Linked DNA regions of Homo sapiens: regions 1, 2, 4 and 5 are each reported to be linked to region 3. The links are microRNA targets in miRTarBase. Many come from high-throughput screens and were not tested one by one. Region 3 holds a microRNA gene; each other region holds the end of a gene's coding sequence.
The links. The annotated mature microRNA hsa-miR-5583-3p reads GAAUAUGGGUAUAUUAGUUUGG and lies in region 3 at 3,209-3,230, shown strand. An mRNA with a match to its seed (bases 2 to 7 or 8) in the 3' UTR can be bound and repressed. Matches are read on the target gene's strand: a 7mer-m8 pairs with bases 2 to 8, a 7mer-A1 pairs with bases 2 to 7 and ends in A, and an 8mer does both.

Region 1 (5,107 bases), not on the chromosome of region 3:
TGTCTCCCTGCTAGGGCTGGGGCTGTGTTTTGACCCACTCTCTCATCCTCTCAGGGTGGTAGACAACGAGGGGACCCTGCAGCTGAAGAGAAGCTTCCCCATCGAGCAGAGCTCACATCCTGTGCGCAGCATCTTCTGTCCCCTCATGTCCTTCCGCCAGGGGGCCTGCGTGGGTGAGTCCTGTAGGGACAGGGGATCTGGGTGGCTGGGGAGGGGCAGGAACCAGGGCTGGTGCCAACCTGGCTCAGACATCACGACACCGATGCCCTGACTTCCTGGACCTCATGACCCCTCCTGCCCCAACAGCCTCACTGTGGAACTCACAGCTCCAAACAGCTCAGAGAACTCACAGTTTGCACTTGATCTCGGCCAAAAGGCCGAGAAGTGATGAAAACTCACACTTTGAACGCACTAACTCCCCAAACAGCCCAGAGACCTCGCATTCTGCACACAGTACCAAAACAGCCAGGTGACCTCCCATCTAGGGATGGGGCCCCCTCAAACCTCCCCAAGCCATGCTAGGACCTCACACCTCGGACATACACCCTTCAACACCTCAGACACCTCAGGGACTTCCCACCAGGGGCACCCCAGGCGCCTCCCGATGGCCTCTCCCTCTCACCCCGACAGTGACGGGCAGTGAGGACATGTGCGTGCACTTCTTTGATGTGGAGCGGGCGGCCAAGGCTGCTGTCAACAAGCTGCAGGGCCACAGTGCACCTGTGCTTGATGTCAGCTTCAACTGCGACGAGAGCCTACTGGCCTCCAGTGACGCCAGCGGCATGGTCATCGTCTGGAGGCGGGAGCAGAAGTAGGGTCCTGTCGGCCCTGCTGCTGTCCTCCATCCCACCCCTCTTACTCCAGCCTCGTGTTGTAAATAAAGTTTCGGTGGTCATGCTGAGGGCCGGCTCCCAGCTCTGCCGGGGACGGACAGGGCAGAGGGCAGCGGGCAGCTCCAGGAACACGGTGGAACGGGGTTCATTGACTCATTTGTGCATTCATGCATCGACGGATTCATTCATTCCACAAGCATTGATTGAATGTCTGCTGGGTTACAGGCCCTGCCTTAACTGTTTTACACACTTATGCATTCGATAGACATTAGTGAGCCCTGACCGTGTGCCAGGAACTGTTCTAGGCACTGGGGATACTGCTCTGACCTAAACTGATGGAAATGCCTGCCTTCATTGGGCTTGCATCATAGCGGAGACAGTAGATAAAAACATGGAACAGGCCAGCTAATGATGAGTGGTATGAAGAAAATAAAGCAAGGATGGGAGACAGAGCTGCAGAAGTTGGGGGAGTGGGCTCTTTATGGTGACAGCATCAGGGAAGATGATCCTGACAGGGTGACTTTTTTGTTTTTGAGACAGGGTCTCACTCTGTCACCCAGGTTGGAATGCAGTGGCATGACCATAGCTCACTGCAGCCTCAACCTCCAGGGCTCAAGTGATCCTCACTTAAGCCTCCCAAGTAGCTGGGACTACAGGTGTGTGCCACCACACTCGGGTAATTTTTGTATTTTTAGTAGAGACGGGGTCTCGCCATGTTGCTCAGGCTGGTCTTGAACTCCTGGGCTCAAGCGATCCACTCGCCTCAGCCTCCCAAAGTGCTGGGATTACAGGCATGAACCACCACGCCTGGCTCAGGGTGACATTTAAAGACCTGAATGAAGTGAGTGGGAGTCATAGTGTAGGGGGAGAACATTCCAGGCAGAGAGAAAGCCAGCCTAAAGGCACTGAGGCTGGAGCGCTCCAGAAGGATCATTGTGTATGCCAGAGTCTTGCTGGACCAGAGTGTGACAGTACATGAGGTCAGACAGGCCAGATGCTTCATGGGCCACAGTTAGGACTTTGGCTTTTTTTCTGAGTGGGGGTGACCAGAAGGTGTCAAGCAGAGGAGGAACATGATCTGACTTGGTCATAGAGGCTCCCTCTGGCTGCTGAAGGGGACAGATTGGGGGTGGGGGTAGAAGCAGGGGACCCAGCAGGAGACCCCTCTGAGCGCAGTGATGGGGACTTGCACCAGGGTAGTGACAGTGGAGGAGTTGGCGGGGGAATGTTGGGTCGGACCCCCAGGGGGTTCACTATGTTAGGCTGCAGGACTCTGCTGCCTCCTCAGGGGGCGATATTCCCAACCCTTCTGTGCATTGTGTTGTTTATTAAAAGCAGGGAGCAGAGGTGTTGAGTCCTGGAGCCCCAAGCTGGTGCAGGAGCAACGGGAAGTTAAGGCTGACCTGGGGCCTCCTGCTGTGTGGCGGAATCTCCATCCCTCAGACCACCCCTGTCTCCTCCCAGCCCCATCCAGGGTACAAATTCCAGCCCTGGAACAGCTCAGAGACCAAAAAGTGATGTTAAGTATTTGAGGGGAGCCCCAAGAGAGGAGAAAAAGCTTTGAGTATTGATGGGGGTAAATAACCAAAATCACTTATCAGTGGCCTGCGTCACCAGAAAATGTCAAAGTTACCTGAAGCAGCAAAGAGGCTCTTGCTCCGGCCCCTCCCTTCCTTCTCAGCTCCATTTGTTGCCACATATGCGTTGACTGGAACTGCGACTGACATCTTGGGACCTTAGGGTCAGTCCACAGCGTGGTAGAGACTCCAGCTTGGCCCAGCATTGCTGAGCTGCTGAACTCGCACCAACAGTCTTGTTGGAGGGAAATAATCTCCCGTTTGTTCAGTCCAGTTATTTGACAGTGTGGTTACTTGCACCCCAAGCATTTCTAACTGGCACTTCCATCTAATAGACCTCAGGGTACATGGTGGTGAGATAGGGACATCAGTGAGCTGGATTGTTCCCATGGTAAAGGTCATGTATGTGTGTGTGTGTCATGGTCCTCAATACCAGCCCCAAGCCCAGTGATTTGCTAGGAGGACTCCCAAGACTCAGTATGTGGTTGTATTCATGGCTACGATTGACTTATTACAACAAAAAGATATGGAGCAAAATCAGCAAAAAGAAATGGTGTGCAGGACCAACTCCCAGAGAGACCCAGGCACAAGTTTCCAGGGCTTCTCTCTCATTGGAGTCACACAAGATGTGCTCGGTTCACAGTAATGGGTTGTGACAATACATGCGAAATGTTGCTGACCAAGGAAGCTCAATTAGAGACTCAGCACCCAGAGGTTTTTTTTGTTGTTGTTGTTGTTTTGGTTTTTTTTTGGCGGGGGGGGGGGGGTCTTGCTCTGACGCCCAGGCTGGAATGCAGTGGCATGATCTTGGCTCACTGCAGCCTCCACCTCCTGGGTTCAAGCGATCCTCGGGCCTCAGCTTCCCGAATAGCTGGAACTACAGGCGCGCACCAGCAAGCTCGGCTAATTTTTGTATTTTTAGTAGGGATGGGGTTTCACCATGTTGGCCAGGCTGATCTTGAACTCCTGACCTCAAGTGATCCTCCCACCTCAGCCTCCCAAACTGCTGGGATTACAGGCGTGAGCACCTGGCTGGTATCAAGTTTTTATTGGGGCATGGTCACATAGGCACCCCCTGCCTGGCACCTACCCAAATCCCAGGCTCCCAAAAGGAAAGCAGGGGCTCAGCATAAACCACCTTTTTTTTTTTTTTTTTAATTGAGACGGAGTCTCGCTTTGTCGCCAGGCTGGAGTGCAGTGGCGTGATCTCGGCTTACTGTAACCTCCGCCTCCTGGGTTCAAGCAATTCTCCTGCCTCAGCTTCCTGAATAGCTGGGACTACAGGCGCCTGCCACCACCACGCCCAGCTAATTTTTGTATTTTTAGTAGAGACGGGGTTTCACCATATTGGCCAGGCTGGTCTCCATCTCTTGACCTTGTGATCCGCCTGCCTCGACCTCCCAAAGTGCTGGGATTACAGGCATGAGCCACCGCTCCTGGCCCACTTTTTTATACAAACAGCTTAGGTAGAGTAAGCCATTCTTTTTTTTCTTTCTTTCTTTTTTTTTTTTTTTGAGACAGGGTCTCACTTTGTTGCCCAGGCTGGAGTGCAGTGGCTCAAACATGGTTCGCTGCAGCCTCAACCTCCCAGGCTCAAGCGGTCCTGCTGCCTCATCCTCCAAAGTAGCTGGGACCACAGACATGCACCACCATGACCCCAGCTGATTTTTGCAGAGATGGGTTTTGCCATGTTGCCCAGGCTGGCCTTGAACTCCTGGGCTCAAGTGATCCTCTCACCTTGGCCTACCAAAGTGCTGGCGTTACAGGTGTGAGCCACCACACCCGGCCCGAGTGAGCCATTCTTATCTCTTAGGGAATGGTGGGAACCCTCCTGGAGTCTATGTTCTTAGACACCACCCAAGGGCCAACCTTGAAGCAGGCCTTTCCAAGGATCGCAGTTGAGGCCTGCTCTGTTACTGTTTTTCTGCACAGTGTGCAACACCACACAGATGCCCAGTTTCTACCAAGGTCTGTGGATGGCAGGATAATTTTGAGGAACCTCCTTTTTCGCTAACACTTTCTTCTTTTGTTTACACTCTTCACATTGTCTATTGAGTCTGGATTCAAGATGATTGATTGTGAATATTGTTGTGCATGATTTTGGGGGTTTCCTCCTTGTGAAATTTTGAGGTGGCAGATTTGACATTCTACTTTAAACTCATCTTGGTGGCACTTTTCTTGACTCACCACCTAAGGGGGAATAAATAATGAAGAAAGAATAAAAATAGTGTTATCAGTCACATTTGGGCCTCGGTTAACTTGTTCAGCATCACTGGTTTCACATCAGATCTGAAGCTCTGTCAATCATTCCACTATCAATTCCACTCTGGTCTTGCCTCAAATCGAGGCTTCGATTAACTGTTCCCTGCCCTTTGTCTGACTTTGAACCTGTGTGTTTGTCAACTACTTTACCATCAAGAGCCTCTCTGGGCCAGGTGCAGTGGCTCACACCTGTAATCCCAGCACTTTAGGAGGCCAAGGCAGGCGGATCACGAGGTCAGGAGATCGAGACCATCCTGGCTAACACGGTGAAACCCTGTCTCTACTAAAAATACAAAAAAATTAGCCGGGCGTGGTGGCACGTGCCTGTAGTCCCAGCTACTCGGGAGGCTAAGGTAGGAGAATCACTTGAACCCGGGAGGCGGAGGTTGCAGTGAGCTGAGATCGCGCCACTGCACTCCAGCCTGGGTGACAGAG
Region 2 (5,104 bases), not on the chromosome of region 3:
GATATTGCCTAACTTCATATAAGACAGATGGATGATCTGTGAACATAAGTGTTTATTAAAAATGGCAATTAAATATAAATTACTTTTGTGGGGGAATGCCTAATAAATACATTGACTATATATAAAATGAATATATACATACACATGTATGCCTGTATATATATATTCATTCTCCAGTGTTGCTGAATTAAAATTCTGCTGGACTTTTTAACATAGCAAATCCGATGTTTATAAACTGGTAATCAAAAAGGTTTTTTCTTTTAGGTGAGTGGGAAAGTATTACCCTTGTTTTAAATATCTAAGCAATGCCTATCAACCCTTTTTTGTGTTATGATTACTGTAGTCATATTTATGAAAAAAGGTTTGTGTTTTACTCTTGCTAGTGAGAAAAGTGGGACAAAATATACTTTTGAAATAAAATGCTATATGGCACCTAATTATTTTTTCTTTTAAAATGCCTTAAGTTGCAGTCTCATTTTGATAATCATTTGCTTCCAGTGTTTAAAAATTAAAAAAAGAATGGGGAGAAGGTTATGAGAAGAGCATTATTAAGTTTCCAAATTTAATTTGAATTCCAAATTCACCTAGCAATAAAATCTAATTTTTAAAAAGTATATAAATATAAAATGTATAAATGATGGATAGATTTTTGTATTGATTTGCAAAATGCAGATTATATTTGATAGGCTATAGTATGTAGATATTCCTTTTAGGAATATTACAGCTGTAAATTATATGAGACTTGCCAGTCAAATGCTATTTGGTTTAAAAAAATTATTGCAATCTCAAGTTAATGGAATATTTTTAAATCCCACATTCAGAGTTTAAAACACTGGTTTTCAATGTGTTTTTTAGTGTTGTCACTTGTTTATAGATAAATATATAAATAACCTGTTTGGATCCTGGTCCTTTTTAACTGTTCCTTGGTAATTCTGAGCATTTATTTGATGACTTAATATTTTTCACTACCTTTGGAGAACAGATGAACATTATTCACCATGAATGGATCTATACTGTGTGGTCATGAGTTGTGTATACTTCCATAACACTGTATTTTTCTTCTGTCAGTACCCTTAGGATACACTTTAAAACACCTTAAGGTCTGATGTTATGGCAACAAACTACTTTTTCAAACCTAAATAGGAACCATGTAATTTCTCAAAAGTGATTGAACAGTTTGCCCACACTTAGTTTGTTGGTCTTATGTAAAACATTGGCTCAAAATAAAGTACACACTGATTTATTTTACTGTTTGAAATGTTTCCTTTTAAACTGGTGCTCAAAGAAGACATCAGACTTCATAACCAAGAATTTTATTACAATTTCAAATCTCATTTTAAGCAATAATATAAATGTTCTAAAACATTTGCTCACCTCTTGCCAGTTACCTTTGCATTGTCTGTCTTAAAGCAAAAATATAAAATTTAAGGGTGGTAGTTTTAATATATTCTGTGGGTCCTAAGGGATGCTTTGAATTTGAAGTATATATACTTTTAATAAAATTCAGTATGACAGTTGTCTTCTGCTTAACCCATAAAACTTTATTTAAAAAATTTAACTAGATGGTACAAAACATTCATTGGTATGCACATAATTCTGTATAGTTTTGTTATTAAATGCTAAATGACAGTGATAACAATGGCTTAAGCTTTACAGTATTCTTGTAGTTCCCTAGTACCACTTAGTATTTAAATATTGTCATATTAGCTTCAGATTATCATGTAAATGACGGTAGAGGAATAAGAGAAAAGGCTTTCATTGGTTATCAGTTTTAAATTCTGAACAAAAGAGACCATACACTGCTCACTACAAGAATGCAATTTTCTAAGAAAATGTAGTTTAAAATGTTATTCTGAATATCTGCCAAAGAATTATATTGTTATTACTAGCTAGAACCAAGATGTTGAAGAAAGCAGTTTCTACATTCTGGATGTAGTAAACAAGCCTGCCTGTGTAATCCAATTATCTCTTCACTAATGAGTAGATAAGGTGCCTGTTATAGATGTTCTGGTATATAAAGAAAAAATGTAGGCCAAGTGTGGTGGCTCACGCATGTAATCCCAGCACTTTGGGAGACCAAGGTGGGTGGATCACTTGAGGTCAGGAGTTTGAGACCAGCCCAGTCAATATGGCGAAACCCCGTCTCTACCAAAAATACAAAAAGTTAGCTGGGTGTGGTGACAGATGTCTGTGGTCCCAGCTACTAAGGAGGCTGAGGCAGGAGAATTGCTTGAAAACCTGCAAGGCGGAGATTGGAGAGAGCCAAGATCGAGCCACTGCACTGTAGCCTGGGCAGCACAGTGAGACTCCATCATATATATATATATAGCACTTCATTACCAGAGGCCTCTTGGCCTGTTGAAAAATGAAACCAAATATTGAAAATTAAATCAGAGTTTAAAGCAGCTATTTTGGAAGAGCTGCCATTAGGTAGAAAGTATCAAAATGTACAAAAGAAAGTTGTATGGGAGTTGAGTGGAAGGTAGGATTTAAGAGCAGCACTGCCCAATAAAACTTCCTATAATGAAAATGTTCTATAATGTATGTTGCCCAGTACAGTAGCCACTAACCACCTGTGATTTGAACACTTGACAATGTGGCTAATGTAATTCGAAAACTGGATTTTAAACTAAATTTACTTAAATAGCCTCATGTGGCTAGTGGCTCATTGGACATTGTAGTTGTAGACGTTTGAGACTGTTGGTTTTAAGTTGGACTTAATCACTTTCCTACCCAAATTCTACCACTCCTTTAAGAACTCCTTTAGAACTCTTTTAGTTCACATAATACGCCATATTTTTTTTACTGTGCCTGTAGTTCTTCAAGGAGTGGTACAATTTGGGTAGGAAAACCAGGCAGGAATTCCAGGGTAGTGTTCAATATTGACATTAGTAATAGTCTATCAATAATAAAATAGACATCTCAATCACTATACAAAATCTCAGAAATGTAAAGCTCTTACAGAGCATGCTTGTGCTTGTGTAACAGCTGGTGTAATGCCTGCATTTTCAGTACCATGTAGCCGCACTGTTAATAGTTTTCTATCACTTTTTAGTTACTCATGTCTCATTAATGATAGTGCCATTAATTGTGATGAGTGTTTTCGATTCATGTGGTCAATAAAAAGAGACTACACAAGCTGGAACTTTGTTGCCATTAGTCAAGCTAGTGAGATAGTATATCTATCTATCTCCCCAGAAGAAAGTAAGATAATTGATGGGGTGTGGATTCAGAAGAGGGATTACTTTTCTTTGAGCCTCAGACTTCTAGACAGTATACTTCAGTCAGTAATGGACCACATATAGAACAGTGTTTCCTTAGTAGACCATATTTTTACTGTACCTTTTCTATATTTAGATACACAAATATTGTGTTACAATTGTCTGCAGTATTCAGCACAGTAACATGCTGTGTAGGTTTGGGACAAAATAGGCTCTACCATCTGGGTTTGTGTAAATACAAGCTGATTTTCACACAAGATTCCCTAACTATGCATTTCTTAGAACGTATCCCCATTGATAAGTGATACGTGACTAATTTACGTGAAATTTATACATTCTTTATCTTTCCTGTTTTTGGTTTATTGATGGTGAGGAAAATTACTCGTTTCAGCTTTTTCATTTTTTTACTCCCCAAATGATTTTCACCTTTTTCTTAAAATGTACAATAAATGCACTGAAAACTTTGATCACTGTCACTACAGTTGTACTTAAGTGTTTTTCTTCGGTTTTTGCTTGCACAGTTTTCATGTCATTGAAGGAAAAATTTATAAATGCTTGAGGAGAATGAGATACATCTTGTATAGGGGAAAGTACAAAAGGTATGGTGGCAAGAGAGAAATCCTTAAAGGGGCACTATAATATGTAAGTGTTAACCTAATTGCCAGCTTTCTCTATGCCATCCTGGACACAGCGATCATATTTTGTTTCAAATAATTTATAAACATTCATTAAAACTTGAGTCATTTGTGATAAAATGGTGTGTGTAAAAGTAATGAAACTAAAATTGGTGTGGGGTGTTAAAAGTTGTAAAATTTTCTTCATCTAAATCATAAAAAGATACACATTCTAGAGGAATTATCTGCCAAAAAAATAACAATTATCAAAGATATTTAAATGTATGGGATGTACTTAAAATCACTTATTCCCCATTTCATGTTTACTAATAAACATATAAACTAAAGTGGGTCAACTAAATAGGGAAGATACAGCAGGCAAGACAAATAGGCTGGGCTTTTATTTTTATCTGCTTGGGCTTTAAGCTTTCCTTCATTCAAGTGACAGATTCTGCCTTTGACGGGATGCTTAAAATCACTATATTAGATCTAAGATCATTTCTAAAACCTGTTTTTTTAATGAACCTAAAGACTTTTCACAGCAGATGAGTACATAAAAATGTTACTGGAATAAGGAATACCATTAAAGCTCTAATATCCAATGTCAAGTTTTATATTAAAATCTTTCCCAAGTTATCTCTGCCAGGGCATTTTGTTGATGTCTTAGTGCAAGATTACCAAAAACTTAGTCAAATTGAACAGGATATTCATTTTCTTCTCCAACTACCAAAACACAGTCTTCATTATAAGGTGATTGGGGTGCGGTTGAAAAAACTGTGGTGAAACGAGAATCAGAATGTTTTTTGTACAGGAACCAAATGATTGCTCCCAAAACTGTCAAAATTACCGTGCTAGCAATCACCAATGCTGATATTAAAATGTGGTTATCTGAAAAGGAAAAGACAAAAGAGTATTTGGGAAATTAGGGTACACAAGTTGCAAGTATATTTTGATGAGCACAACTGTAGTTTTGTGTAAACATTTCTCTGTGTTGAGAATTTCCCACACTGATGAGAAAACCAAAAATTTCGCATTTGTTACTAACAAGATTTATATTTCTTAGCCTGAAGAATAGTACTCAAATTTTCTAGGAAGTTGTGCACTTCTCCACTCTACTGAAGACCCCATAGTGGAAATCACGCAAGTATATACCATGCTCCAGTTTGTCTTCCTTCGCTTTACTTTCTGATCTAAGACTACAAATTCAGACCTACTGTTCCCTTTAGGAATTCTAGTATTTAGATAATGTGTTACATTATTGAGGTTTAA
Region 3 (5,107 bases):
TAAGTGTCATATTTACTTAAACACTGGATGTTGGTATACAGTGATGCAATGGATATTATTATCCCTGATGACCTCTGATTAAGCTTATAATCAACAATGGTCAAGCTACCCAGTGAATGAGTCGGGATATGAACTCAGGCAATTCTGATTTTAAAGCCAAAGCTCTTTACTTTCTGTCTCAAGGCCCCTGTGGCTTCCATTTCTAGCTAAAGCATAATGTAACCTCAGCCACTAAAATCACATTGCCATTGGTGCCTCCCTCATTCTCTCTTCATCTTCTTTTATTCTGTTTCTATGCCTGTGCAAAAAGGCAGCTGCCCTGGGAGTGGACTCTGCAAGGACACCAGATGCATTCACACTCCAGTTCTGCGTCATGCATGCTCTATGAACCTGGGCAAGCAGAGTAACCTCTCTGAAACTCAGGTTTGTCGTCTGTAATGTGGGAACAAAAATCTTGAACTAGGCCTGCTGAGAGATTAAGCACCCAGTAGACAATAGGTGCGAAGTAATTATTAATTCCCTTCTCTCTCCCTGTCAATTTGCTGGCTCCAGATTGGATACAATCTTCCTGCTTTGACCTTGAGTCTCCCTCCTTACAAAATGCAATTCCATTTACTGAGCATCTGAACATAATTGGCACCTAAGGAATACATGTTGAGTGACTGAAAGACCTCTTCAAGGCTCAAATGTCCTCAAGAATCTGAAGCCCAGCCTGAGCCTTGTGAAGATCTTTGTAACTGCCTTATATCCCCACACTGGTTTATGCACATTCATTATCGTTTACCATATTGGCTTCTAGTTTTTCTTAATACATCATAAGTTTCTCAAGAGCAAGGACTATGTCTTACTTTTCTTTGTAAACTTAGCTATTACAAGATATCCTGAATATTTATTTGACAAATTACTATTTGAAAGATTTAAATTGAATCATTATTCTAATATCAGTAGTTAACACTGATTAATCTTGCCTGTAATACTAATTCCTAGAAGTATTTGAAAATATAATGAAGGCATTAAAAAGGTTAGTGCTCACTTCAGCAGCACATATACTGAAAATAATACAGAAGGCTGGGCACAGTGGCTCAGGCCTGTAATCCCAGCACTTTGGGAGGCTGAGGCGGGTGGATCACGAGGTCAGGAGTTCAAGACCGACCTGACCAACATCGTGAAACCCCATCTCTACTAAAAATACAAAAATTAGCCGGTGTGGTGGTGGGTACCTGTAATCCCAGCTACTCAGGAGGCTGAGGCAGGAGAATCGCTTGTACCCGGGAGGCAGAGGTTGTAGTGAGCCAAGACTGCGCCACTGCACTCCAGCCTGGGCAACAGTGTAAGACACCATCTCAAAAAAAAAAAAAAAATACAGAAAAGATTAGTATGGCCCCTGTCCAAGGATGACACAGAAATTTGTGAAGTATTCCATAGTTTTAGCCAAGATATGGAATCAAACTAAGTGTTCATCAGCAGATGAATAGATAAAGAAAATGAGGTATATGTACACAATGGAATACTAGTCATACAAAAGAATGAAATTCAGTCATTTGCAGCAATATGGATGAGCATGGAAGATATTATGTTAAGTAAAATAATTCAGGCACAGAAAGGTAAATATCACATGTTTTCCCTCACAAACAGAAGCTTAAAAAGTTGGTTTCATAGAAGTAGAGTATAGAATAATGGTTATTTATTTATTTATTTATTTTTTGAGACAGAGTCTCACTCTGTCACCCAGGCTGGAGTGCAGTGGTGCAATCTCAGCTCACTGCAACCTCCGCCTCCTGGGTTCAAGCAGTTCTCCTGCCTCAGCCTCCCGGGTAGCTGGGATTACAGGCAAGCACCACCACATCTGGCTAATTTTCATATTTTTAGTAGAGATGGGGTTTCATCATGCTGGCCAGGCTGGTCTCGAACTCCTTACCTTGTGATCCACCTGCCTCGGCCTCCCAAAGTGCTGGGATTACAGGCATGAGCCACTGCTCCTGGCCCAGAGTCTAGAATGATGGTTATTAAAAGCTAGGAAGGGTTGGGTCAGGAGATATGGAGAGGTTGGTTAATGGAAACAAAATTTCAGCTAGACAGGGGAAATAAGTTCTAGTCTTCTAAAACATGGTAGGGTGACTAACAATTTATTATATATATATATATATTTTTTTTTTTTTTTTTTTTTTTTTTTTTTTTACTGTAGAGACGGAGTCTCACTCTGTCACCCAGGCTGGAATGCAGTGGCGCAATCTCGACTCCTGCAACATCCGCCTCCCAGGTTCAAGCAATTCTTCTGCCTCGGCCTCCTGAGTAGCTGGGACTACAGGCACATGCTGCCATGCCTGGCTAATTTCTTTTGTATATATATTTTTAATAGTTAGAAGAGAGGATTTTGAGTGTTCCCAACACCAAGAAAAGATAAATGTTTTAGGTGGGGGATAGGCTAATTACTCTAATTTGATCATTACACATTGTATATATCAAAATATCTCTCTGTACACCATAAACATATATAACTATTAAGTGTCCATTTAAAAATGGTACAACCACTTTGGACAATAATTTGGCAGTTTCTTATAAAATTAAACCTATAGTTATCATATGGCCTAGAGATTCCTGTCTTATGTATTTACACAAGAGAAATGAAAACATGCCCACAAACACATTTATATATAAGAATGTTTATTGCAGTTTTGTTCATAACCAAACATAAAAAAATTACAAATATTCATGAACCAGTGAATAGTTCCAAGTTGTGGTATGACGATGCAATATGTACTCTCTAATAAAAAAAAGGAACAAGCTACTGATACATAGCCTAACATGGATTCAGAAATGTTATGTTGTGTGAAGGAAGCCAGACATAAAAGAGAACACAGAACATACTTTATGGTTCTCTTTATATGACATTACAGAAATCAAAACAGCAGTTGCCTCAGAGATGGTATGGAGTGGGATATAGTGGTAAAGGGTGGGAAGGGAATGCTCTAGGGTGATGAATACATTATGTATCTTCATTGGGGACTTATTATGTGGGTGTATACATTTCTCAAAATTCATTGAACTATATACTTAATTGAACTGTACACTGTATTTTATTGGATGTAAATTATACCTCAATTTAAAAGATAATATACAATTCAAAAAACAGAAGGATCTATGGAATAGATCTACAATGTAGAGCTAACCAAACTAATATACCCATATTCTGATGATCACCTAGCCAGAATATGGGTATATTAGTTTGGTTAGCTCCACGTCATAGATCTATTCCATATTTGTGCAAAAGTTATATTTCGAAGGGTCTCATGTTTAATGATTTAGACTAGAAATGTGTTGGGGTGCATAATCTATAGATATCTCTATGGTAGGTTGGTTTAGAAAATGAAGCATTTTAAAAGGTAAATGACTTCTCTAATTAACCATGTAGTAAATATTGTCCATAAGATATATACACATTATATATATATATAATATACATATGTGTATATATGCCCATATAATACATTAAAAATATATTTTTTTGACCAAAGACAAGCAAAACAAAATAAAAGAAAACATACCCCCCTACCTGGTGAGGGCTCTCACATTCTCACATTTTGGATCTGGCTGGTGGTCCTGGTATTGCTGATTTTTTAGATGGTCCCTGAAAGCAGATGCCTCTGTCTGTATTTCCTTAGGAAACTCCAGAATAGGATAAGCTCAGAAAACGACCACTGTACCCTGGAAGCATAAATTAGCTTCGGAATAGGGATAGGGCTCAGTTATCTCCTTTAAAAGGGGGCCTGCCAACCTCGTCTAACTGTTTTAAGAATTCTTTGAATGGTAAGAGCATTGCATAAACAGGAGCATTCATTGCAATATCGGCTTTGACCTCAACTCAACCCTCTTCCCCTTTCAAAACCACTGAAGAACATTTTACTCCATTTATAAAATATGAAAGGGAACTTTTAAGGTTGTTACTTTCTAATTTTCCCAACTCATTCTCTTCATCCTGTTCCTGGTGGCTCAGGACAACTTCCTACCTCGCATTGCCTCTCATTCACCTCTAACCATCCCCTTAGATGTTAGCTGATAATTACATAATACCTTTGCTGTTTCTCTCAGGCTTGTTTTCAGTTTTAAATTAATTATGAAAGTCCCTCAAGTAGCATTTCACCTCCTAAATGTGGCCCTGCCATCCTGGGATCTCCTGAAGAAAGTGGCTGATGGCTTTGCCCACTCAGAAACTTGGCCATGCCGAAGGGACACCCCATCTCTGACAGGACAGCAGTTCTCTTTGGGCTGAGCCGAGGGTGGGACATGACAGAAGTCAAGGCTGATTTCTGTTTCCCTTGAAAACACTGGTCAGAATGGAGAGGCTGCCCCATTTAGTGAGCTTGGGAGGATGACTCATCCCTGGGAAAACTCATTACTTTCTCAGAACCTTGATCTGTTCCCAAGTTCTCCTTTTTTATGGCAAATATAAAGTGGTTAGAACTCCCACACATTTTTCCTTCAGTGTCTCTGAAAATCATTCAGCCCTGTTCAGGGTTTCGCCAGTGATGAAAAGCTTATCCTACATATTTTCAGATAGCAAATGTCATAGAACACACATAATGTGACTACCTATTGCACTGACATTCGTATTTAGTACTCAAAGGCGAGCCATTTCTGAGGGAGGGAGCCCGGTTTGCTCTATAATGCCCTGAGACAGTCCTGTATCTCCTGCTGCGGCTCCTGACAGATCTTATAAAAGATCGTAAATTACTATCTGTTGAAATATATGAATTTAATGAATTCCATTAACGCACACCTGCACAGAAGAGATTTCAGGAACCCAAAGATATGATCAGTCAAACAGCTTTAATAGTTATTAATTACAGAAGCAGACTATTTATCCCCTGCCTACATAGAAATCTGAAAGTAGTGTAATACTCACACTTCAAGGGTTTTTGGGTGGGAGAGAAAATGGGCTTTGGTTGAAAGGATCAAATACTTATTTTAGCTAATGCACTTACATGCTGGGAGTTTTATATTTATATATGAGAGAGCAGTCACTACTTTTATGTGTAGATTTTAAGAAATTTAATGTCATGAGAGTTTATTTTTTTTTAAGAATTATAAAAAAGGCTTTGGCCAGTAT
Region 4 (5,107 bases), not on the chromosome of region 3:
TTGAGGAAGAAGAAACTAAAGAGATGCCCAAGCTGCAGTGTGAACTCTGTGATGGAGACAAAGCAGTGGGGGCTGGAAACCAAGGAAGGCCCCACCGACATCTTACTTCTCGGCCATATGCCTGCGAGCTCTGCGCCAAGCAGTTCCAGAGCCCTTCCACACTCAAAATGCACATGAGATGTCACACCGGGGAGAAGCCATACCAGTGCAAGACCTGCGGACGGTGCTTTTCGGTGCAAGGAAACTTACAGAAACATGAACGCATCCACCTGGGCTTGAAGGAGTTCGTCTGTCAGTATTGCAACAAGGCATTCACCTTGAATGAGACCCTCAAAATCCATGAAAGAATCCATACTGGAGAAAAGCGTTACCACTGTCAGTTCTGCTTTCAGAGATTTTTGTATCTCTCCACCAAAAGGAATCACGAGCAGAGGCATATTCGGGAGCATAATGGGAAGGGCTATGCCTGCTTCCAGTGCCCCAAAATTTGCAAAACAGCTGCTGCCCTTGGAATGCACCAAAAGAAACACTTATTCAAAAGCCCAAGTCAGCAGGAGAAAATAGGTGACGTGTGCCACGAAAACTCAAATCCCTTGGAGAATCAACATTTCATTGGTTCAGAAGACAATGACCAAAAGGATAACATACAAACCGGTGTGGAAAATGTTGTCCTTTGAGTGGCAAGAATTAGAAAAATCTTCAAAAATATAGTTGGTGGTTTTTTTAGTTATGATTTAAGTTTAGTTTCATTTTGTCCATGTGACAGTCATGAAGGAGTGAAATTAAAAAAAAAAAAAACTCATTTGTGAAAATTCCAGAAAAAGGATCCTAATATCTACTTTGGGTTTTAGCATTAACTTTATGCAAAGTGCACAAAAACAAAATAGCTGACTCCTCCAATATCCCAAGTTTCTTGTGAAAGTTAATAAAATTCTTAGCTGTGGTATTTCTACCAGTGAAAAAAGGAGTTTAATTTTAGCCTAGTTTAAAACTTTCTAATAATTGCTAATAAGAACTGGCTGCTGAACTGTCTTTAGTCACTGGAGAAAATAAGGGTCAGATATCCTGAAGATGGCATCTTCGTAAATATGTTACGTGGTAATAAGCTGTGTGACGGTCTTTATTCCCATCTGGCTTCTGCACTATTAAAATTTGTTTAAATTAATGGATACACATGAAATACTTAAACAATATAACTGAAATTATGTGCATAATGAGTAACCTAAAGTAGGACATTCATACATTATGTAGAACTACTTTTCTGCAACACAAACCTTGTAAAATACATATATAAATCACTATAACTTTTAACTGTCCATATCCCCTGTAGAGAATTATGAGGAGCAATAGATCTGCAAATAATGAGGACTGATGTAAAAATCAATAGAAAGCATTTTGAATATGATTTAAGAGCATGTGAATGCTTTTAGATGGAATGCTGTTCCCTTGAAGTTATGGCTGAGCTGTTCTTAGAACTGGTCTACTCAATTCACAGAAAACATAGGTCATGCCTTATCTATGGGGGAACACCCTCCCAGAATTTACCTGTGATTACCTGTGCTGCATATTACTTTGCAATGGCCTCATCTCAGAGAATGAAAGAGGGTCACATTGTTCTGAAACTCTCTGCAGTCTTCCAACCACCACAAGGCCATGGATGTGGGGGTCTATTCCAGACAGACTTAAGGGCTCAAGTGGAACCTGCCATCTCCCATTCCACTGAAGGACTGTCCAAGAGATTTAGTGCAAGGTACACTGCAGTAGTGAATTCCCAGGCACTTGAAAGTGACTGCCTAATCCCTACAATTACTAGCCTTGTTGGAGATTATGCAGCCCACAAGTACAGACTAGTATAAAGCAAAAGGACAAAGGAACCCCCACCCTCCACCCCACCCATTAATGACTTGAGTGGGCAAGAAGAAGTGATGGCCTTCCTTGCCTAAAACAGTAGCTTTGTTTTTAGGGGGTGGGAAGGTAGGATGTGGAGTGACATGGTTCTATCCTTTACTTATGAGACTCAGAAATATATCTACAAAGCCAGATGCTCTGTCTTCATATTTGCAGACATCTAGACCCCTTGCTAAAAACCCACTGAAGTTTTTTTTTTATGTTCTTTGACCCACACCATCAACACTACCCTCAAATCTAATTGCCCTACAGCATATTCTATCATGTGGACTAGGTTCCTGGAAAGCCGGAACTCATGATTCTTTTTCAAACTGCCAGAATAGAAGGGAGAGAGAAAACATTTCTACCCTTTGATCACCAGTGTGAACAGAATCCGGAATGCAGTTTCAGCGTGACCTGCAGTCATTCATGTTCATTGGATTTGACAGATGGAAACCCAAGGTTATCGAAGATTGGAAGGTTATCATTGTGAAGAAGTAGCTCAAAGGACTCCGGTTTCTGTCTACAAGTGTGATGTCTCCATGAAGAAGACTTAGTATGGATTTGGGTGGGTAAGAAAGCATTTAAACGCCCAGGAAAGGACATGATTAAAGTTGACCTTTTAATACTGTAGTACCTTGCTGTTAAGTAACCCCACTATTGTATCTGCATTTATCTTTTGTTCATCTACTTTCACTTACATACAGTATTATATAAGTAGAGAAAAATGGGAAAATGCAAGCAAATTCAACTTTATTTTATACATTGTATATATGTACACCCTACACTATTCATTTGGGTTTTATTAAAGAGATAGTCACAAAGGGCTTACGAAAATCATTTTTGAATTGATAATTAGAATATTGAATAAGCAATCCTATGATCCACTAATTTGTTTTATCAGTTAATAATATTAATCAAAGACATTTACTGTATATTCTAGTCATTTTGATTTGAGTTAACCCCAAATATAAAATTACCTGTAGTGATGTCTCTCTCCCAGCCCTTATATGTGGATATTTTTTAAGTGGACTTGTATGCTGATAATTCTAGACCAAAGTAAATATGGCAGAATATTTATACATGAAAAAATAATTTTGCAAATATTTTCTATAATTGTATTCATTTAAAATGTTGATAGCTTGTGTTAGTTTCAGGGAGGGGTGTATATTTTGATAAAAAAATACTTGACTTTGTAATTCTGTATATTCTATACAATTTATAGCAGAGCCGTTTTAAGACAGCCTTGTCACATTTTTTTGTTAATTGTGAAAATTTTATTGAGTGATGTTTAAGTATGCATTGAGTACATGACCAACTAGAATTAAAGTAAGTGTAAACAGTGAACATACTGTATGCTGTACAAGATATAATGTAACTTGCTGTTTTAGCATCTGTATTTTGGTTAGAAGATATTATTAAATGCAGATGTTAAGGATTGGAAAAGTCTAATTTTATTTTTAGAAATAATGGATATAAATTTGTTTTTGCTTGATTAAAATAGCTTATTCCTACATTAAGTCTCTTTTTAAATGTTTTCATGTTATTTCTTTTGTGCAGCTATTTCATCTGTGTGAGTCACAGCTTTGTTTCCACGTATTATTCAGTTTATTTCTGTTTCCTTACTTGTTTACATTCCGTGGTACCTACTTACATGCTTAGGAGTCAAATGGATTATGACATTAGGAAAAAAGCAGAATAAAAGAGATTGAAGTCTTCTGATGATTGAGTGTTTTGGATAGGCCTGATCTTATAATGATAAATCAGAGAATGAAATGCTCTCCAGGAAGCATTCTGCTCCACTCATCCGTGGGAAACAAATTACATTTATTGAGTACCAGGCACTGGGCAATGTCTTTACATAGGCTATTTCATTAACACACACGCACCAGAATTCGACCTCATTATCCTCGTTTTATAGTGACTTTGAGAAGGTCTCACAACCAGACAAAGCCAGGATGCTAACCTAGGTCTGCCTGACTCCAAAGCCCATGTTTTTGTTCCTTCTCAACACTGTAGAGAAAAATCATTTATAGAAACTGAACAGAGTATGAGGAAAGGAGATATGATAAAGTAATGCAGCTTTAGGATGGCAGTTAGTGACTGCCCTGGAACAGGATTAAAGGAGGCTGTGTCAGGTTCAGCTTCCCCTGAATTGGGCTTCCCTTATATCTCAGGAGATTGCCCTATAAAATCAGTAAAATTTGTGCACTTTTTTAAGGATATGGAGTAAAATTGTAATAGCATTATAAGCTGGTAATTTTCACACAAAGAAAAAAATACGTTCCGTCGTCACAGACTCTACTCCTAAACTTAGCTAACTAACTATCTTGCAAATGCCTGCAGTTTGTCCCAGTGGGCAATGTGAGAGGGGATGTCGGTGGCTCAGGCAGCACAGTCCATCACCAACACAGAGAAAATTACTGCCAGGCCTACCGGTGGCTGGCCAGTAGCATCAATTTTGTATTGGAAGGGCAATCCAAACCAGATTCACCAAAAATTTGATAACTGTTATCTGCTAAAACTAACTTCATTATGTACAAGAACAACAGATTTAATATTGAAAGCATCTGTAACAATTGGGAAAGTAAAAGCATAAAACAAAAGTGTTAGTATATTTTTTTCCATTACTTCGGATACTTTCATTCTTGCTACTCATCTTTTCTCATCACCTACTGATTGATTTAGTTGCACTCCCATCTGTCTCTTATCAGTTTATTTTTACAGAAGCAACAGCTCTTCCACTTCAGTTTCCTCCAAATCTGAGAATGCATCCCCCTCGCCCTCCCCAAATCCTGACCAGCTATTGATTTCTCTTCTGGAGAGAGAAGCCTCCTTTACTCCCTCCCTAGTTTGTACATCCTAACCCAGTTCCTCAAGCAAGATGGTCAGTGAGCAAGAAAGTTGGCTGGGTGTGCAATTTAGAACTATTCACTCTAAATTTAGACAACGAATGAAGAACTAGTTAGAAATGTTATATTTTATTATTTCATTAGTAACATCTAAAACATTCTATTTAGAATGTTTTTGTGGAAAATCAAACACTTTTTTGCAATAATTTTAAAATATATGACTTGTATGTAATTATAGGTGAAAGTATTTTATTCCAGTTAGAGAAACTGGTAAACAGACATTTTAAAGATGTAATAATGTGGCCGGGCGTGGTGGCTCACAACTGTAATCCCAGCACGTTGGAGGCCGAGGCGGGAGTTCAGGAATG
Region 5 (5,099 bases), not on the chromosome of region 3:
TAATATACTTATTAACTGGACATCAGAAAGCACGAAACCCAATTTGTTTTACAGATCAAACTATCAATAAATTTTGATAAATTTTTAAAACCTATTACTTAACTTTCGGCTACATTTTCCTTAGTGCTTTCAGGGTAGTTCTTACAGATTATTTAAATATGTGAGGAAAATCTAACACCTTAACAGAATTCCAAGAAAAACTCACTTTTCGAGAATCATATTATTCAACTCCATCTTTCAAATTTCACTTTACGATGAAACAGGAATTTTCAACCACATAATATAACAGAAAATTAAGTGACCAGAGGTCCGCAGTATAATGACAGGGCATATCTGCTAGACTGACTTATTCATTATAGCACTACTAAATTTAACTGCCAGATTAATATTAGGGGTAGTGTTGATTTTCCATGTTTATTAATAACGATGATCCATAATAGAAGGCAAGATTTATTTAGAGACTAAATATATTCTAATACTTAGAAATCAACTTTTATATTAACAAAAACATAACCCACAAATACTCATGAGAAAATACTTTGTCTACTTTGCCTTATCAATAAGATTCTTTATAACTTGAAATTCTTAGTCTGCCTACTTAAAAAATAAATCGTCCATATTTTTAAAAGGCTCTTAAGCAAAATTCTTAACTTTCTTATAATTTTTGAACTTTAAGCCTTCAAAACCAGTCTGCATCCCCAATTCACAAAATTGACAGTTATAAAAGGACTTGAATCTGCCTGGCTTACCAAAACCTAAAACACAGCCTGAAGCCTCTTAGGCCCATCTACCAGCGCAGTTCACAGGCATCTGCATGAATCACCTGGGACTGTGTTTAAAAAGACTCACGGGGCCCAATGCAGATCTACTGAATCAGAATCCACTTGTTCATATGCACATCAAAGTTTGAGAGTACTATGTTAAAAATCAAAACCTCACTCTAATGTTTCTATACAAAGTACAAGGTCTTTCTAATGGCTTAGGAATAGGATAGACCATGGGTTGCAGCAATGAGGAAACAGTCTCCTCCCCCCACCCAAGTTTTAGTCTAATAATGCCAACTAACTGCTGTTTTATAGCCTCCTAGGCTGAATGACAAATTAACTTCTTGAAAATCAATTATGAAGAATATGAGATGAAACCTAGGCCTTTCTTACTGAATTAAAGTCAAAGTTGGAAGAAAAAAATTAACCCATTTATACTTTCTTTTTAAAAAGCAATTACTCTATTCTCACTCCTTTACACCTTAAAAAAATAAAACTTCACTTATATATTCACGATCCCCACCATTTCCCCCAATTTTGTTTCTTGCCTCACCACTTACTCTTCACATTTTTATGATGTTTAAATTGTAACAGAGTCTTTAACTATCTTATCTTCAAGCTGTACAGAAAAAAAAAAATCCATGGGCAATGTTAGAATTAAACTTTTTTTTTTTTTTTGCGAGACAGAGACTTGCTCTGTCGCGCAATGGCATGATCTCGGCTCACTGCAACCTCCGCCTAAAAGGTTCAAGCAATTCTCATGTCTCAGCCTCCTGAGTAGCTGAGATTACAAGTATGCGCCAACATGCCTGGCTGGTTTTTGTATTTTTAGTAGAGACAGGATTTCGCCACATTGTTCAGGTCAGTTTTGAACTCCTGGGCCAAAGTGATCCACCTGCCGGGCCTTCAGTCATGCTTTTAATGTGCGGGTTTAAATCCTGTTTTTGCCTGTATTATCCAACAGCATTATTTAACCTGATTCATCCTTTAACTATTTGGAATTAGAGTAAAGCTCCATATGATTCAACAATGGTTTTCAAACTTGTACAAGTGGCAAAGCAGCTTTAACAATGAGGTCACTGAAATATTGAAAATTTAAATCCACTCTAAAATCCAAAATAGATTTCATAGATATGGAAATGATGGGCCAGGAGCGGTGGCTCACGCCTGTAATGCCACCATTTTAGGAGGCTGAGGCAGGTGGATATCTGAGGTCAGAAGTTTGAGACCAGCCTGGCTGACATGGTGAAACCCCGTATCTACTAAAAATACAAAAATTAACCAGTGGTGGTGGCAGGCACCTGTAATCCCAGCTATTTGGGAGGCTGAGGCAGGAGAATCGCTTGAACCCAGGAGGTGGAGGTTGCAGTGAGCTGAGATCGTACCACTGCACTCCAGCCTGGGCAGCAAGGGCGAAAACTCCACCTCAAAAAAAAAAGAAAATGGCCAGGTGGGGTGGCTCACGCCTGTAATCCCAGCACTTTGGGAGGCCGAGGCAGGCGGATCACGAGGTCAGATCAAGACCATCCTGGCTAACACAGTGAACCCCTTCTCTACTAAAAATATAAAAAATTAGCCGGGCATGGTGGCGGGCACCTGTAGTCCCAGCTACTTGGGAGGCTGAGGCAGGAGAATGGTGTAAACCTGGGAGGCAGAGCTTGCAGTGAACCGAGATCGCACCATTGCACTCCAGCATAGGCAACAGAGCAAGACTGTGTCTCAAAAAAAAAAAAAGATACTACATGACAATCCTGTATGCCACTAGTTTTTTCTTCTTAAATATGCATAAGACAATTAAGACACATTTGAGTGTTATTATGATCTGACATTTGTTTTATTAACCATTAGAAAAGATCTGAAAAAACGAATTCCATTTTAATAGTGAGACAACACAGTAGAGCTAATCATGGAATATTAATGTTTTGCTATTCGGGAATTACTAAGGGGGAAATTTGCAGGAAACTTTAAGGCAAGAATATTGCAAATAAGTTGCCAAAAATATATGCTTATAGCCATAGCAAAATGAAGATTTAGCATGCTTGTCTTTGCTCCCAAATATTTTTAAATGCAGCTTTATTAAACTATAATGTTTTTAAAATTAATACTTGTGCTTATATAAAATTCAGTGATTTAAGTACATGATACTCATTTGGTCACATTTTCTGCTATTACTGTTCGGCTTCCCAAGAATTTCATTCAATCAGCAAGTTTAGTTCACACAAACGTTAAGGCACAGAGTCATGAAACGAACTGATTTTAATTCTGAAGTGTGTTAAAGTAATCTGCTCCCCTCTGCCCCAAACACATATACATAGCTGCTTATTCATACCTGTTTGCTAAAAACTCATGTGCACCTCCTTACGGTTAAATATAATTTGGGAAATTAATGATGTAAAATGTAAATCATAATTATAATTCCTTTTAAGGAAATTAGTATTTTTCTTTAGTTACTTCAAGCCACAATCCTTAATTCAATGATCCCAGAATTCTTTACAAAACCATCCTTGGTATATGAATATCTTAGACCCAAAAATATCTGTGATTATGATGAATTTATGATGATGAAAAAAGACACCAACTTTTATAGAGATCCCTGAATATACGAGAGCTAAGGAGGCACAAGGATTAAACTTTCTATGACTTGCTGTAGAATGTGTGCCTTGCTAAGTAGGGATTAGCTTCTGAATAAAATGTGAAAACTGAGATCACTCACTCATTCTATTCAAAGAAGAAGTGAGATATACTGTCAGTTAAAAAGATGAAACAAATATGGGAAGTCAGGCACTAATATTAGTTGGCAAATTTTACAAAGGTTTTAATTACATACCTCTTTAAAAAAAGAAAACCTAGGCAACACAGACATATATTAAAAACATCAGTTTCAAATTTCTTCCAAGTTTGCTTTTAAATGAAGGTTTAAAAAGCAGATCAACTCTAGATTTTGTAGTCCAACTTGCTGTGAAATACTGAAACTAACTTTCCTTTAAGAAATCTTAAGGAGGCACACTTTCTAGTGGTGATACCCTCCTCCAAACCAAAAGTAGTAAGAAGGTAAGGGTATGAACAGCAAAGTTGTGTAACATTTTCTTATTTCTATAATTTTACTTATTCTGGATACTTTTAGAAAATAAACTCATGTTTTAACTAAGACTGTTAACCAAGTACAAAACTATTTGTTGTTGCATTTGCAGATACAGTATCCTACAAATATGTGCAGCAAGCCCATGAAGCACTTCCACCGTCGATACTGATATTTCAGTATTTAATATATACAAAATGTTTCTATTGAACAGAACCAAGGTATTCACAATAAGCTGCAGAAAAACCCATGCAATTAACAAAGAATGAAATTTATAAATTAAAAACATTGTCGTCTATACATAATGTACAATCATGCATTTAAAAATGAATACTATACGTCTCATAAGAATAAATTTTCAGTCAACTGCTGCTGCATGAATATTTGCTAATGCAAATGAATAAAATCTTAGTAAATTCTGCATTAATATTTTAACCGCCAGAAGTTGAAACTTTTCTCATTTTTCTTGAAAGCTGTCCAAAGTTGACATATGCAGGAAAAATTCAAATTCTTTCGCATTTCATTTGAGGTTTTTAACCAGTAACAAACTTCCTAAACCTCAGTCCCAACAAACATGAATTAAACAAACCAACAAACAAAAATATAAACACCTTTATCAGTTCAGCAAAAATTCAAATAAAAATGTTCAATTTTACTTAAAGTATTTTACATGTTTCACCAGAATATGCACGGGTTTAAGAAAGCATGAAATAAAATGTAAGTTCTGTTACTAGTTTTGCTTTCACATCTCAGTAAGATAATTAAATTTCCTGAAAAACCACGCATAGCAGCCAAGAATACATATTATGAAAAAAAAAAGGATCTTACATAATGAACTTACAAAATTGAACTTACATAATAAGTCACTGTCCTTCAGGGTTTGAAATGTTATCAACTTTGCAAAGAGTCTCTTCTTTGAAATTGTGCTATTATTTCAGAACTTGTTTCCTCAATCAAGAAATCCAGTGATGTTTAAAAAAACCTTCAATTTTCTCTGAAAATACTAAATAGAATTTTCATGGGATGGTGATCTCCAACGTGACTGTAGATTTTTTATTACAGAGTTTGCCATACAACTTAGTTTCTCGTGCATTTCAAATAGTTGGCTTCCTGAATAATTATGAAGATCTTCTGAATCCAGCTGAAGAGCAAGAGCACTAATCTGTGCCAGAAGGTTTTTGGATAATGGAATTTCTAAAGCAACAGGATCAATTATATCTAAAAGAGAAAAAAAAAACCACAATTAAATCTATACC

Region 1: miRTarBase lists WDR13 as a target of hsa-miR-5583-3p. Seed matches in the 3' UTR shown: 7mer-m8 at 3,753-3,759.
Region 2: miRTarBase lists CD302 as a target of hsa-miR-5583-3p. Seed matches in the 3' UTR shown: 7mer-A1 at 3,858-3,864 and 7mer-m8 at 2,126-2,132.
Region 4: miRTarBase lists ZBTB38 as a target of hsa-miR-5583-3p. Seed matches in the 3' UTR shown: 7mer-A1 at 1,564-1,570.
Region 5: the mRNA of RIF1 is a reported target of hsa-miR-5583-3p. Seed matches in the 3' UTR shown: 7mer-m8 at 3,531-3,537.

What each region holds. Positions count from the first base shown.
Region 1 is chrX:48,604,218-48,609,324 of GRCh38, forward strand. WDR13 (WD repeat domain 13) reads left to right here. Exons shown (of 10, transcript NM_001347217.2): 9 at 55-173; 10 at 631-4,652. The coding sequence ends at 815. Among named protein-coding and RNA genes, the nearest start is that of WDR13, 9.3 kb to the left of the region's middle. RefSeq lists a silencer at 1,924-2,218.
Region 2 is chr2:159,767,331-159,772,434 of GRCh38, forward strand. It overlaps CD302 (CD302 molecule), which reads right to left. Exons shown (of 6, transcript NM_014880.5): 6 at 1,298-4,723. The coding sequence ends at 4,521. It overlaps MARCHF7 (membrane associated ring-CH-type finger 7), which reads left to right. Exons shown (of 12, transcript NM_001282805.2): 12 at 1-3,697. The coding sequence ends at 12. It overlaps LY75-CD302 (LY75-CD302 readthrough), which reads right to left. Exons shown (of 38, transcript NM_001198760.1): 38 at 1,298-4,723. The coding sequence ends at 4,521. Among named protein-coding and RNA genes, the nearest start is that of CD302, 28 kb to the right of the region's middle.
Region 3 is chr18:39,674,842-39,679,948 of GRCh38, reverse strand. MIR5583-2 (microRNA 5583-2) reads left to right here and starts at 3,172; the gene lies at 3,172-3,230. All of the region lies in intron 2 of MIR924HG (MIR924 host gene), which reads left to right. MIR5583-1 (microRNA 5583-1) reads right to left here and starts at 3,228; the gene lies at 3,170-3,228. It also overlaps the pseudogene RNU6-1242P.
Region 4 is chr3:141,445,300-141,450,406 of GRCh38, forward strand. ZBTB38 (zinc finger and BTB domain containing 38) reads left to right here. Exons shown (of 6, transcript NM_001376113.1): 6 at 1-4,493. The coding sequence ends at 677. LOC124906291 (a long non-coding RNA gene) reads right to left here. Exons shown (of 2, transcript XR_007096120.1): 2 at 3,340-5,107. Among named protein-coding and RNA genes, the nearest start is that of RASA2, 39 kb to the right of the region's middle.
Region 5 is chr2:151,474,819-151,479,917 of GRCh38, reverse strand. RIF1 (replication timing regulatory factor 1) reads right to left here. Exons shown (of 36, transcript NM_018151.5): 36 at 1-5,061. The coding sequence ends at 4,847. Among named protein-coding and RNA genes, the nearest start is that of RIF1, 67 kb to the right of the region's middle.